Linked DNA regions of Homo sapiens: region 2 is linked to region 1. Evidence: fine-mapped expression QTL. A gene starts in region 1. The other region holds a variant in brackets. All regions are shown on one strand. Distances are from middle to middle. Region 1 holds the start of CACNA1A (calcium voltage-gated channel subunit alpha1 A). Region 2 overlaps CACNA1A (calcium voltage-gated channel subunit alpha1 A).

Region 1 (5,362 bases):
TTTTTTTAATGGCAGAAATATTTAGATTAAAAAGTAGAATGTTCTGCCCTGGTATCGTGACTCTGACATTCCACGTGTCTTTCTCTTTACACTGGCCTGAATTCTTTTATTCACTACCTCCCTCCCCAGGTCTCTGTCCATCCCCTCTCATCTCCAACCCTCCCACCCACCCCGCCACCGCCCTCCGCTCCATCCAGGACAGAGAAAGCTCAGTCCTGGATGACCCAGCTCGATGACAGATTGTGAGGTGGGGAGTTTTCCCTTCCAGAGTAGGGCTGTATAATGTGTTTGTTACCTCGGGTCAAAGAGAACAAAAACAGTCTGCAGAGAGCATAATGCACAAACTCATCATAAGAGCAAGAAAGCCCCGGGCGAGCTGGCCAGAGAATAGATGAAGTGGCAAGCAACACTCGCAATTCACCTGCCTCCCTCTCCCACGATTCCCCCTTCCGAGGGGCCACTGCAATCCCCCTCTCCCCCAACAGCCCTCCAATCTGCAGGATTCAGGCTGGACAGAGGTAAGCTAAGGACACAGCAGAAGGGCTCCCCACCTCCTTCCTTTCCTCTTAGAAGTCTCCAAATCCAGGCTCCAGAAGGCGATCTAAAGCCATTTTCAATGAGGAAACCTGTCAGCCGAGCAAAGCCCTCTCACTCCTGGAGCTAACTGGGTGTGCACCCATGAATACCCTGTCCTCCTGCAAGGCACTCCCACTCCTCACTCTGTTGATAGGCAGAGTAATCAAGCCACCCCTGAGCACTTCAATGGGCCTGGGATGGTGAGGAATTGCTAACCTTAAGAACCAGCCTCTTTAAGAGTCTGAAACTTAGGAAGCAAAGACCTGGCACCTGCTTTGGGCACCAACGGAGATGGCATCGTAGTTAGAGGTATGCTCCCCTCAAAAGCACCTCTGCTGAACTTCTTAATTTTCCCCACCCTCAAAGTAGACCACTCACACACTCCAAAACCTCAGTGCCCTCTGTTGCAATCCCAGCACCCAGGATCCAAGCGCCAGGCTCGATTTTGAACCCCCCTGAAGTGAGTCCCTCTACCACCCGCCATGCTCCTCAAACAGCAACCCCCGGAGACCACACAGGGCCCAGCCCCGTTTAGTCTATAACTGCAAAACCACATACAAAAGGGATAGGGGACTCATCGCTGAGCCCCAGGGACCCATCCAGCCCGTTCATTTTTACACAGAGGGCAGCTGGTTGGAACTGTGCGGAGAAGCGGCACATCTGGGCATGGCACAGTGGCCAGCCAGCCTGGGCAGCAGGGTGTGTCCCCCCTCCTGGAATCTGGGTCATGCTTAGATAACTGCTAGAAAGCCCGACTAATTACCCACCCTTGCCTGCCTACATCTCGATAGATGTTAAGCCCTCCTCAAGGTTTATTTCAAGCAGGCAGGGATTTAAAGAAACACAGAAGATCTGCATTTTGATAGCATCTCCACAGAAGAAAATGTGGGCTTCACCTTTTTCCTCTGGATCTTTGATTAAAAAAAAAAAAATTTAAAAGGCATTTACCTACCTAAGATGTCCACATGGGTGCTGATTCTCCTGGTGTTCCCTCTCGGCTACTCGGGGTAGGAAAAGCTGGACATGGTGCTCTAAAATGGACCCACCACCTCATTTGCTGTTGCCCTGTCTTTCTTACTGAAAGTGTCCAGATCAGGTCTTCCCAGGCCAGGGGCCCAGATAAAGCAAGTGGGATCTCTTTCTCGACACCCCCAAAGATGATGAGGTTCCCCAATCAGCGGTTAAAGGCAATGGGACCTGCACACATGAGGGAAACATAAGCGCCCCCCAGCCCATCACTATCCTCTCCAGATAGGAACAGCGGCCCACCCTGGGGTACTCACTTCGGCCAGTGCTGGCTTCTCAGTGTGAAGGCCACATGGACTCCCTCTTGCTCTTAGCCCTGGGAGCCCCCAAGCGCCCTGCCCTAAAAGTGCGGCGGCCCCCCACCTTGGGGAAAGCAGTAGTGGAGAGGCTGTCCAGCTTCCCCTGCGTGGACTCCAGTGAGCGACGGCCAAGAAAACCCAACCAAGGCCCCCATAGTTCCCCTGCCCTGGCCAGAAGCGCCCAGGCCCGAGCCCGCTCCAAGCTCACTCCGTAGAACTCCAAACCCTCCGGACTTGGCTCGAAAGCCCCCACCAAGGCTCCTGCACGACCCCAGGCCCCAGATCTCATTCTAGAGTCGGTCCTTGGGAAGGATCCACTCTCCGCTGCCCACCCCCCAGCCCCCCACAAACCCATTCCCAAGCCTCCAGGGTAGCTCAACCCAGCTCGGGGTGGAGAGATTCTTTCACACTCCTCCCGGTGCCCCCTCTCCCAGCCCCTGGAAGACCCCCCTCCTCCCCACCTCCCATCAACCCCCGGGTCTCTCTCCCAGCCTGGAAGAGGGGAGGCGGAGGGAGGAGGGGGAGGCGCAGCTGCTGCTGGGGTTCGGGCAAAAGGATATGGCCATTCGGTGATCTTTTTGGCGTATTTTCTCACCACGTTGTCTTCGCTGAAGAGGAAGAGAGACCGGTTAACCGTGAGGCAGTTCTGTCGGACGGGGATGGGGTTGTAGAGTGCCATGGTCCGCGCTCTCTGCGCCATTGACTGCTTGTACATCCTTTGCGCCCCGGGCTGCCCGCCCTGCCGGCTGCCCCCGGCTCCTCGCCCGCCTCCGCTGCCCACGACCACCCCGGCGGCTGCCCCGGAGCCTCCTCCCCCGTAGCGGGCCGGCATCTCGTCTCCGAAGCGGGCCATTCTGCAAAGAGCAAAGGGCTCCGGGTTACGCTGCGGCGAACGATGCGGAAGACGCCGCCGCCGCCGCCGCCGCCGCTGATGCTGAGGCTGCCGGGGCTGGGAGCGCGGCGGCTGGAGCTACGACTGCGGAGACGCTCCACGGCCCAGCCCATCGGGCGGCGGCGGCTCGGCGCCTCGGGTCGGGGGCTCAGAAGGCGGCTGCCCGGGCCGAGCCGGGGATAGCAGCTCGGGACATCTTCCTGGCTGACCCCGGAGAAGGAGGGGCGGGAGGAGGGTGCGGGGGCGGGGCGCGGGGGCCCGGGGAGGAGGGGGGAGGGGAGAGAGAAGCGAGGCAAAAAATAACCGAGGAAGGAATCCAGGCAATCCCCAGTCCACCCACTCCGGAAAAAAAAAAAAAGAGACAGTTAAAAAAAAAAAATCCACCCAACGCACACCCCCTTTAAGACGCGAACGGTTTGCAAAGGACGCCCCCCCCGGGACGCAGTGGAAGCTTCAAATTCCTCCGAGGTCCGGGTCAGGCTGGCATCTTGCAAAAGGAGTGCGCTCGGCCCATTAAAAAAAAATAAAAAATAAAAAATAAAAAAATATATATATATTTAAAAATAAAGAAAGACGAAACCCAGGTCTGGGTGGGGAGGGCAAAAAAAAAAAAAAAAAAAATTAAGTGCCCTTCTGTTTTGCTGGAGTTCCTAGACCTTAAAAATGCTGAAAGATCTGTAGCTCCAAAAATAAAATAAAATAAAAACAAAGAAGATGAAAGGGAAGGGAAAGAGGAGGGAAGGGGAGTAAGACGCTCCAGAGGGTTCCTAAGGAGTCTTCACACCGCAGGGTCCAGGTTTAAAAAAAAAAAAAAAAATTTTTTTTCTTCCTGAATCACCAACGGCTGCCTCTTCTGCTCCCGGAGGAAGTGTGAGTGTGTATGTGCGCACAGCGTTTCGCTCAATGGTGCCTCATCTTGGGGTTAAATTGCAGCAGTGAAATCCTGAAAATTCCCAACAGGGGGAAAAGAGAGAGAGAGAGAGGTATGCGCCCTCCGCTTAGCCACTCAATAGCTGCCCCTGGATGCGGCAATGCCTCTCCACCCTCCAAATCCCTCCACCTCCTCCTTCTCTAGGTTTTGCTAAAATAAGACTGGTGTGGAGGGTTGCGGGTAGAAGAAGGTAAAGAGGAAAAAAAAATGGGCGCAAAGGTCTGAACCACTGGCCAGCAAACGGAAAAGGGGAGCAATTGATGAGTTTAACAGTAGAAGGACCCACCCAGAGTGTCGACACATGAGGGCCCGCGACCAATCGTGGAGGCTCGTGGAGGCGCGGGGGTACCGGGCTCAGCGGAGTTTGTGGGGGAGAGAGGGGAGCGTCGCATGGTTGGGAGGCAGGGAGGGGGGAATTGGGGTGCTTCCTCCTCCCCTGGGAGGAAAGCCTGTTTTCCACCCCGTTCCATTTCGGTTGCAGACAGCCGGACGCTCCCCAGCATCTTGCAAGGAGAAGGCAGGATGGAGGCAGGAAAAAAACTTAAAAGACAGAAAAGAGAAGGGGATTTGTGTCTAGAGGTGCGATTCGTCAGTCTCTAAACAAATTTGCTCTGTTTAGCAAAAGACCATTTTTGAAAGTGGAGAGAGTGGTTTGGGGTTACTTCTGTGAACGTTTCAAATCACAAGGACTCCTGCAAGTTGGAATTAAAGGTTTATTCTACCTTGGAGACCCCAGAGGTGACAAGTCTGAACTCCCAGGAGGAAATAATTAACCAGGTCCTAGTTGGCTGGATAGGGGTTCTGGGTGGTATAGTTTGCTTGATACTCACGTCTCTCCAGAACCACTTTGATTACTTCCCATTCTGCTTTTTGTGTGGTGAAATTCAATAAGCACAAAGAAAAATGCATAAAACATAAAGGTACGGAGTTAAGAAATTGGTCTGAAATGAACACTCATGAAATCAAGTCTAGGGCTAGAAATGGAACATCACCACCTCTGCAGAACCCCCTTTGCCAACACGCTTACACAGCCCCTTATTCCAGCAATAATCGCTACCTGACTTTATGGTATTCATATCTTGCTTTTTTAAAAAAAGTTTGACTACCTTATTATGCGTTCCTAACCAATACAATTTTACTTTGCTTCTTTTGGGCTTTTATATAAATGGAATAATCATATAGTATATATTCTACAGTTTCTTGTTTCTTCGGTTCAACATTATGTCTTTAAGATTCATCTGGCAGGGCACGGTGTCTGCGCCTGTAATCCCAGCACTTTGGGAGGCAGAGCATGAGGATTGCTTGAGGCCAGGGGTTTGAGACAAGCCTGGGCAATATAGCAAGACCCTGTCTCTCCAAAAACCTTTTTTAAAATAAAAATTAACCAGGCATGGTGATGTGAACCTAGTCCCAGCTACTTAGGAGGCTGAGATGGGAAGATCCCTTGAGTCCAGGATGTTGCAGTGAGCCAAGATCAAACCACTGCCCTCCAGCCTGGGCAACAAAGTGAGACTCTGTCAAACAAAACAAAACAAAACAAAAACAAACAAACAAAAAAAACAAGATTCATACATCCTAATCTGTTTCGAATTTTAGAAAAATTCACCTGTTTGTTGTCACACATGGCTGTGATTCATT
Region 2 (5,362 bases), 300 kb before region 1:
CATTTCTTTTTCTTTTTTTTCTTGAGTCTCGCTCTGTTGCCCAGGCTGGAGTGCAGTGGCATGATCTCGGCTCACTGCAGGCTCTGCCTCCCGGGTTCACGCCATTCTCCTGCCTCAGCCTCCTGAGTAGCTGGGACTACAGGCGCCTGCCACTATGCCCGGCTGATTTTTTGTATTTTTAGCAGAGACGGGGTTTCACCGTGTTAGCCAGGATGGTCTTGATCTCCTGACCTCATGATCTGCCCGCCTCGGCCTCCCAAAGTGCTGGGATTACAGGCTTGAGCCACCGCGCCCGGTCACCTCAGGGCATTTCTATGACAATCATGCCCTTCCAACCTTCCAGGTGATGAGGCTCAAGCAATGGCCTGAGAGTATGTGAGACTGGGGACTAGGCCAAGCTCCGCCCCTCTTCCTCATCCCCTGATCTTCCCACCCTGTGTCTCCTGGGCAACTAACACTCTAGCCTGATGATGTGCACTGTGGAGGCCTTGGGTCTACCTCTTGGCACTCGGGCATAGACTTGGCCTTTGAGTTCAGGGCTCATGGGGGGCTTCGGTAGTGAACTTCATTCCTGGGAGGACAGATGGCTGCAGCCTCATTGACAGCAGAGGGAATTGCACAAACCCTGGCTTACTCCAGTGGCTCCTGGACACACTCAACCCCAGCACCATGGGAGGGGGACCAGAGGCCAGCTCTGCAATGGATGGGCAGCTTGTTTAGAAGCCTGTGGTGGTTGCCAGATTGCCTGGTTAGAAAGTTAAACCCCTCCCTCCCTCCCTTCCATTCCATTTTTTTTTTTTTTTTTTTTTGAGACGTAGTCTCACTCTGTCGCCCAGGCTGCAGTGCAGTGACGCAATCTCAGCTCACTGCAACCTCTGCCTCCCAGGTTCAAGCGATTTTCCTGCCTCAGCCTGCCAAGTATCTGGGAATATAGGCATGCACCACCACACCTGGCTAATTTTTTTATTTTTAGTAGAGACAGGGTTTCACTATGTTGGCCAGGCTGGTCTCAAACTCCTGACTTGGTGATCTGCTCACCTTGGCCTCCCAAAGTGCTGGGATTACAGGCGTGAGCCTCTGTACCCAGCCTTAAAAAAAACAAACTTTTTTTTTTAGAGACAGCGTCTTGCTATGTTGCCCAGGCTGGTCTTGAACTACTGGCCTCAAGTGATTCTCCCAAAGTGTTGAGATTACAAGAGTCAGACACCGCACTCGACCTCAAAACTTTGACTTCTCGTTGGACTGATCTTTTCCTAGATGCCATTATTTTATTTATTTATTTTTACTTTTAATTTTTTTAGAGATGGGATCTTTCTACGTCACCCAGGCTGGAATGCAATGGTTATTCACAGGTGTGATCATAGCTGGTCTTGACCTCGTGGGCTCAAGTGATCCTCCTGCCTCAGCCTCCTGAACAGCTGGGACTACAGGTGTGTGCCACCACATTTGGCTTACCATTATTTTAGAAGGACTTACACCTGTCTTGCTATCTGGAGTCTGCAGATTTCTTACCCAAGGTAAGCTCAAGCAGGGCCTGTTGTCTGGAACAAGACCTGTTCAAAATGTTTGCCTTAATGCTACAGTAGTAATGGTGATAGTCAATAGTAGCTTGCTATGGGTCAGGTACTGTTGTGAGAACAGAAGCTCTCAAAGGGGTATTGGACTCTGGGGATGGCTGAAACACTTCGTGGGGGCGGGGGTTGGTGTCCACGAGACCAAATTATTATTATTAATTATCTAAGATGGAGTCTTGCTCTGTCACCCAGGTTGGAGTGCAGTGGCACGATCTTGGTTCACTGCAACCTCCGCCTCCTGGGTTCAAGCAATTCTCCTGCCTCAGCTTCCCGAGTAGCTGGGATTACAGGCACCCACCACCACGCGTGGCTAATTTTTGTATTTGTAGTAAAGACGGCGTTTCACTATGTTGGCCAGGCTGGTTGTGAACTCCTGACCTCATGTGATCCACCCACCTCGGCCTCCCAAAGTGCTGGGATTATAGGCGTGAGCCACCGCGCCCTGCCTTTTTTTTTTTTATTTTGAGACAAGAGTCTCATTCCGTCACTCAGGCTGGAGTGCAGTGGTGGGATCTTGGCTCACTGCTAACCTCCGCCTCTCAGGCTCAGGTGATTCTCATGCCTCAGCCTCCGGAGTAGCTGGGATTACAGTTTGTGCAACCACGCATGGCTAATTTTTTTTGTATTTTTAGTAGAGATGAGGTTTTGCCATGTTGGTCGGGCTGGTCTCGAACTCCTGACCTCAAGTGATCCATCTGCCTTAGCCTCCCAAAGTGCTGGGATTACAGGCGTGCATGATGCCCGGCCTCCTTGTCGCTTTCAAACAGTGCTTCTAGGAGCTAACAAAGAAGTGCCTCTTTGTATGATTCCCCAAGAGAGACCCACCCAGGCAGCACCTAGCCAAGGGACAAAGACCACTCCTATCCAAAAGCCCTTTGATTCAACTTTTTTTTATTTTTTTTTTCTTTTTGAATGTCATGCAATAATTCACAGTCCCAAGCCCACGGTTTTCAAACAAGGTAGGAAAAAAGGAAAAAAGAAGCAAAGGAATCGGTGGTGATGGTGGGTTTTTCTTCTTCTTTTGTTGTTTCAAGCAGGACCAAATGTCAGAAAAAAATGCCTCTTTTCTCAATCATTAATTTTTTTGTCCTTTTTAAAATTGTTTATT[GTTA/G]TTATTATTTTTTTAAATTGATTTCTGCAGGCAGTAATAGTAGGGTTTGGTATAACCGGCAAGCACTCTTGTGTGTGTCTGAGAACGTGTGTGGGTGTGAGTGTGTCTGGTGGTGGGTGTAGGGCACTGGGATTCTGGTTCCTTCTGGCTTCTTTGCCGCACTCGGCCACCAGCTGTCTTCATCAGGGAAAGGAAAGATTCAATTGAGATGATAAAACTCATCAATAGAAGCTATTTTTTTCTCCCCGTTTTTTCTTTTAAAAATGTTTTTTTTTTTTTTTTTTTTTTTTTTTTTCATGTTCCCCAAAGTTCTCCAAAAATGGCTGAGTTAATTCAAATCCCTTGGCTGTGTGGTTTGTCTGCTCCCTGCCTCCCACCCGAGAGCCCCTGTCGTGGGTGGGGGGATCGGGGCTGGTTGGGGGGCGCCGTGGCTGCCCAGGAGGGTCTCTTTTGGCCGAGGGTCTCTGCGGGACACCCTTGTGGCCCAGCCCTGGCCTCTCCAGAGTCTGGGGTCTCCCGGCTGGCCCTCTCCCGGGCCCTCTGTGCTGGGCCCCCGCGGCCTCTGCGCGGCTCCTCGGGTGGGGTGTGTGCGTGGGGTGCGTGGGGGGCCGGGCGGGCGCCACCTCGCCCGGGCTTAGCACCAATCATCGTCACTCTCGCTGTAGGGTTCGTGCAGGCCCTTCCTGGAGCCCGGCCCGCGGGGCCTGGCCAGTCCGTGCGCCGGGTAGTAGCCGTTGGGGAGTCGCCGGCCGTGCCGAGAAGGCGAGGCGCAGGCCGGGCCCGAGGCCCGGGGAGTCCTGGGCGAGCGCCCGGTGGCGCCCGAGGACGCGTGTCGTACGGGGGGTGGCGCGTCGTAGGCCCCGGCCATGGCCTCCTCGCCGCCCCCGCTGCCCGGGCCATCGGCCTCGTCGTAGTCGGAGCCCCGGTAGTAGCCATGGTGCCGGGGACCCGGGGGCCCCTCGGACACGTGCGGGCCAGATGCCGGCCACCGGGCCCCGCCGTGTCGACAGGCCCTGGGGGACTCGCTCCGGGCCGGGCCTGGGACCCGCCTCTCCATCCTGGGCGAGCGGCCGCTGCTGTGGCCCCCCGTGGGCGGCCGATCTCCGGCCAGAGGCTCGGCCGTGGGGCCTGGGTACCTCCGAGGGCCGCTGGTGGCCGCCCGGCCCGGCCTGGCCACCGCCTGCTGCTGCTGCTGCTGCTGCTGCTGCTGCTGCTGCTGCGGGGGCCCCGAGCCGCCGGCCTTACGGATCACAGGGGAATAGGACACGTGTGGCCGGGGGGTGGAGGGGGTCTGGGGGAGCTGGCGGCGGCCCCGCCGCGGAGTGCTGGTACCAGATGTTGAGGGGGCTGGGCTTCCACTTACGGAACTACTGCCCTACACGAAAATTGAAACAAAGGAAATCAAAAAAAAAGATACAACAAAATCAAAGGAGACACGGGATTGGGAGGAAGAGAGGGGAGCGAAGGGAGAGGGGCCGGGAGGAGAGGGAGGAGGGGGAGGGGGAGGAGGAGGAGGAGGAGGAGAGGGGGGACACAGGACATTGAATGGAAAAAAGCAACAGCCACAGGGAGGAGGGAGGGGAGGAGGGGGAGTGAGACAGGGAGGGGAGGAGTCGAAAACCAACACAACAAAGTGAAAAGAGAAATGAGAAATGGAGTTTTGTAAGTTTCGGGGTTAAAAATAGCAGAAGTTTCAAAAATTACTCACAGGCGTCCAGAGGACAGAAATCATAATTGAAACAAAAACAGAAGCCGGGTTAAAGGAAAGTGAAAGGTCGGGCGGCACGGCCCAGAACTCAAATATGATCCACAACCGAGGAGCAAGCAGCTGCGGGCGGCGGGGAGGGGGCGGCGGGTGGGCAAGGGGGCTGGGGGGACAGCATAGGCAGCTGGTGTGGTGGGGATCCGTGTCCGCTCCGGCCGCCGGGCACCCCGGTGGCTTGGGGGCAGGATGGGAGGTGGTCACAGCCGGGATCCGGGGACCTTTGCCTAGAGTGGCTGTTGGATGGGGTATCCCCTTCTCTCCTCCCCGCCTCCCGGCCGAGCCCAGCCTGGGGTCACTTGCAGCCGCACCCACCTGCCGGTGCGCCATGTGCTCTCGGCCCTCGCTGGGCGAGCGGGACCAGCGCTGGTCCCGAGCCCGTGCCCGGCCGTGGTCCGGCCGTTCCTGGGCATAGCGGTCCTTGTCGGGGGGCGGGGGATGGTGGTGGTGGTGGTGGTGGTGGTGGTGCTGTCGATGCTTCCGATCCTTGGGCCGGCCCCGCTCCTGGTCCCGCTCCTTCGACGGCAGGTCCCCGGATTGGGTGGTCATGCTCAGGTCTGTCCCCAAGCCTGGGCCGGGTGAGGGTCAGACAGACACACAGGTGGTCGTGAGGGAGAGGTGGGGCAGATGCACACACAGGAGGCCACCTGGAAGGTGTGGGGGCCCTAGAGATCCCCTGAACCGAGGCAGGTCAGTGGGTTGGGGGGAGGGGGTAGTACCCAGGTTCCTGCAGCTGCTGCCTGGCCCCCTCTGTCCCCTCTCCATGGAGGCCTCTCCCTTTCTTCTTCCTTAGTGTCTCCTCCGCCCTGCCTTCTCCTCCCCTCTCCTCTCCTCTGTTCTGCTTGTCCCTGAGCACCACAGGGCTGCCCACCTGTGTCCACATCGGTGTAGCGGCCCAGGGAGCGCTCAGAGGCG

The links.
Region 2: its variant is fine-mapped to the expression of CACNA1A in whole blood (TOPMed, PIP above 0.99).

The regions. Positions count from the first base shown.
Region 1 is chr19:13,503,471-13,508,832 of GRCh38, forward strand. It overlaps CACNA1A (calcium voltage-gated channel subunit alpha1 A), which reads right to left and starts at 3,009. Exons shown (of 47, transcript NM_001127222.2): 1 at 2,462-3,009. The coding sequence starts at 2,754. RefSeq lists an enhancer at 4,051-4,577.
Region 2 is chr19:13,203,994-13,209,355 of GRCh38, forward strand. It overlaps CACNA1A (calcium voltage-gated channel subunit alpha1 A), which reads right to left. Exons shown (of 47, transcript NM_001127222.2): 45 at 5,319-5,362; 46 at 4,763-5,016; 47 at 2,449-4,060. The coding sequence ends at 3,320. Among named protein-coding and RNA genes, the nearest start is that of IER2, 56 kb to the left of the region's middle. RefSeq lists enhancers at 4,247-4,516, 4,823-5,362 and silencers at 4,517-4,566, 4,647-4,836. The variant GTTA/G (reference allele first, on the strand shown) is at 2,683.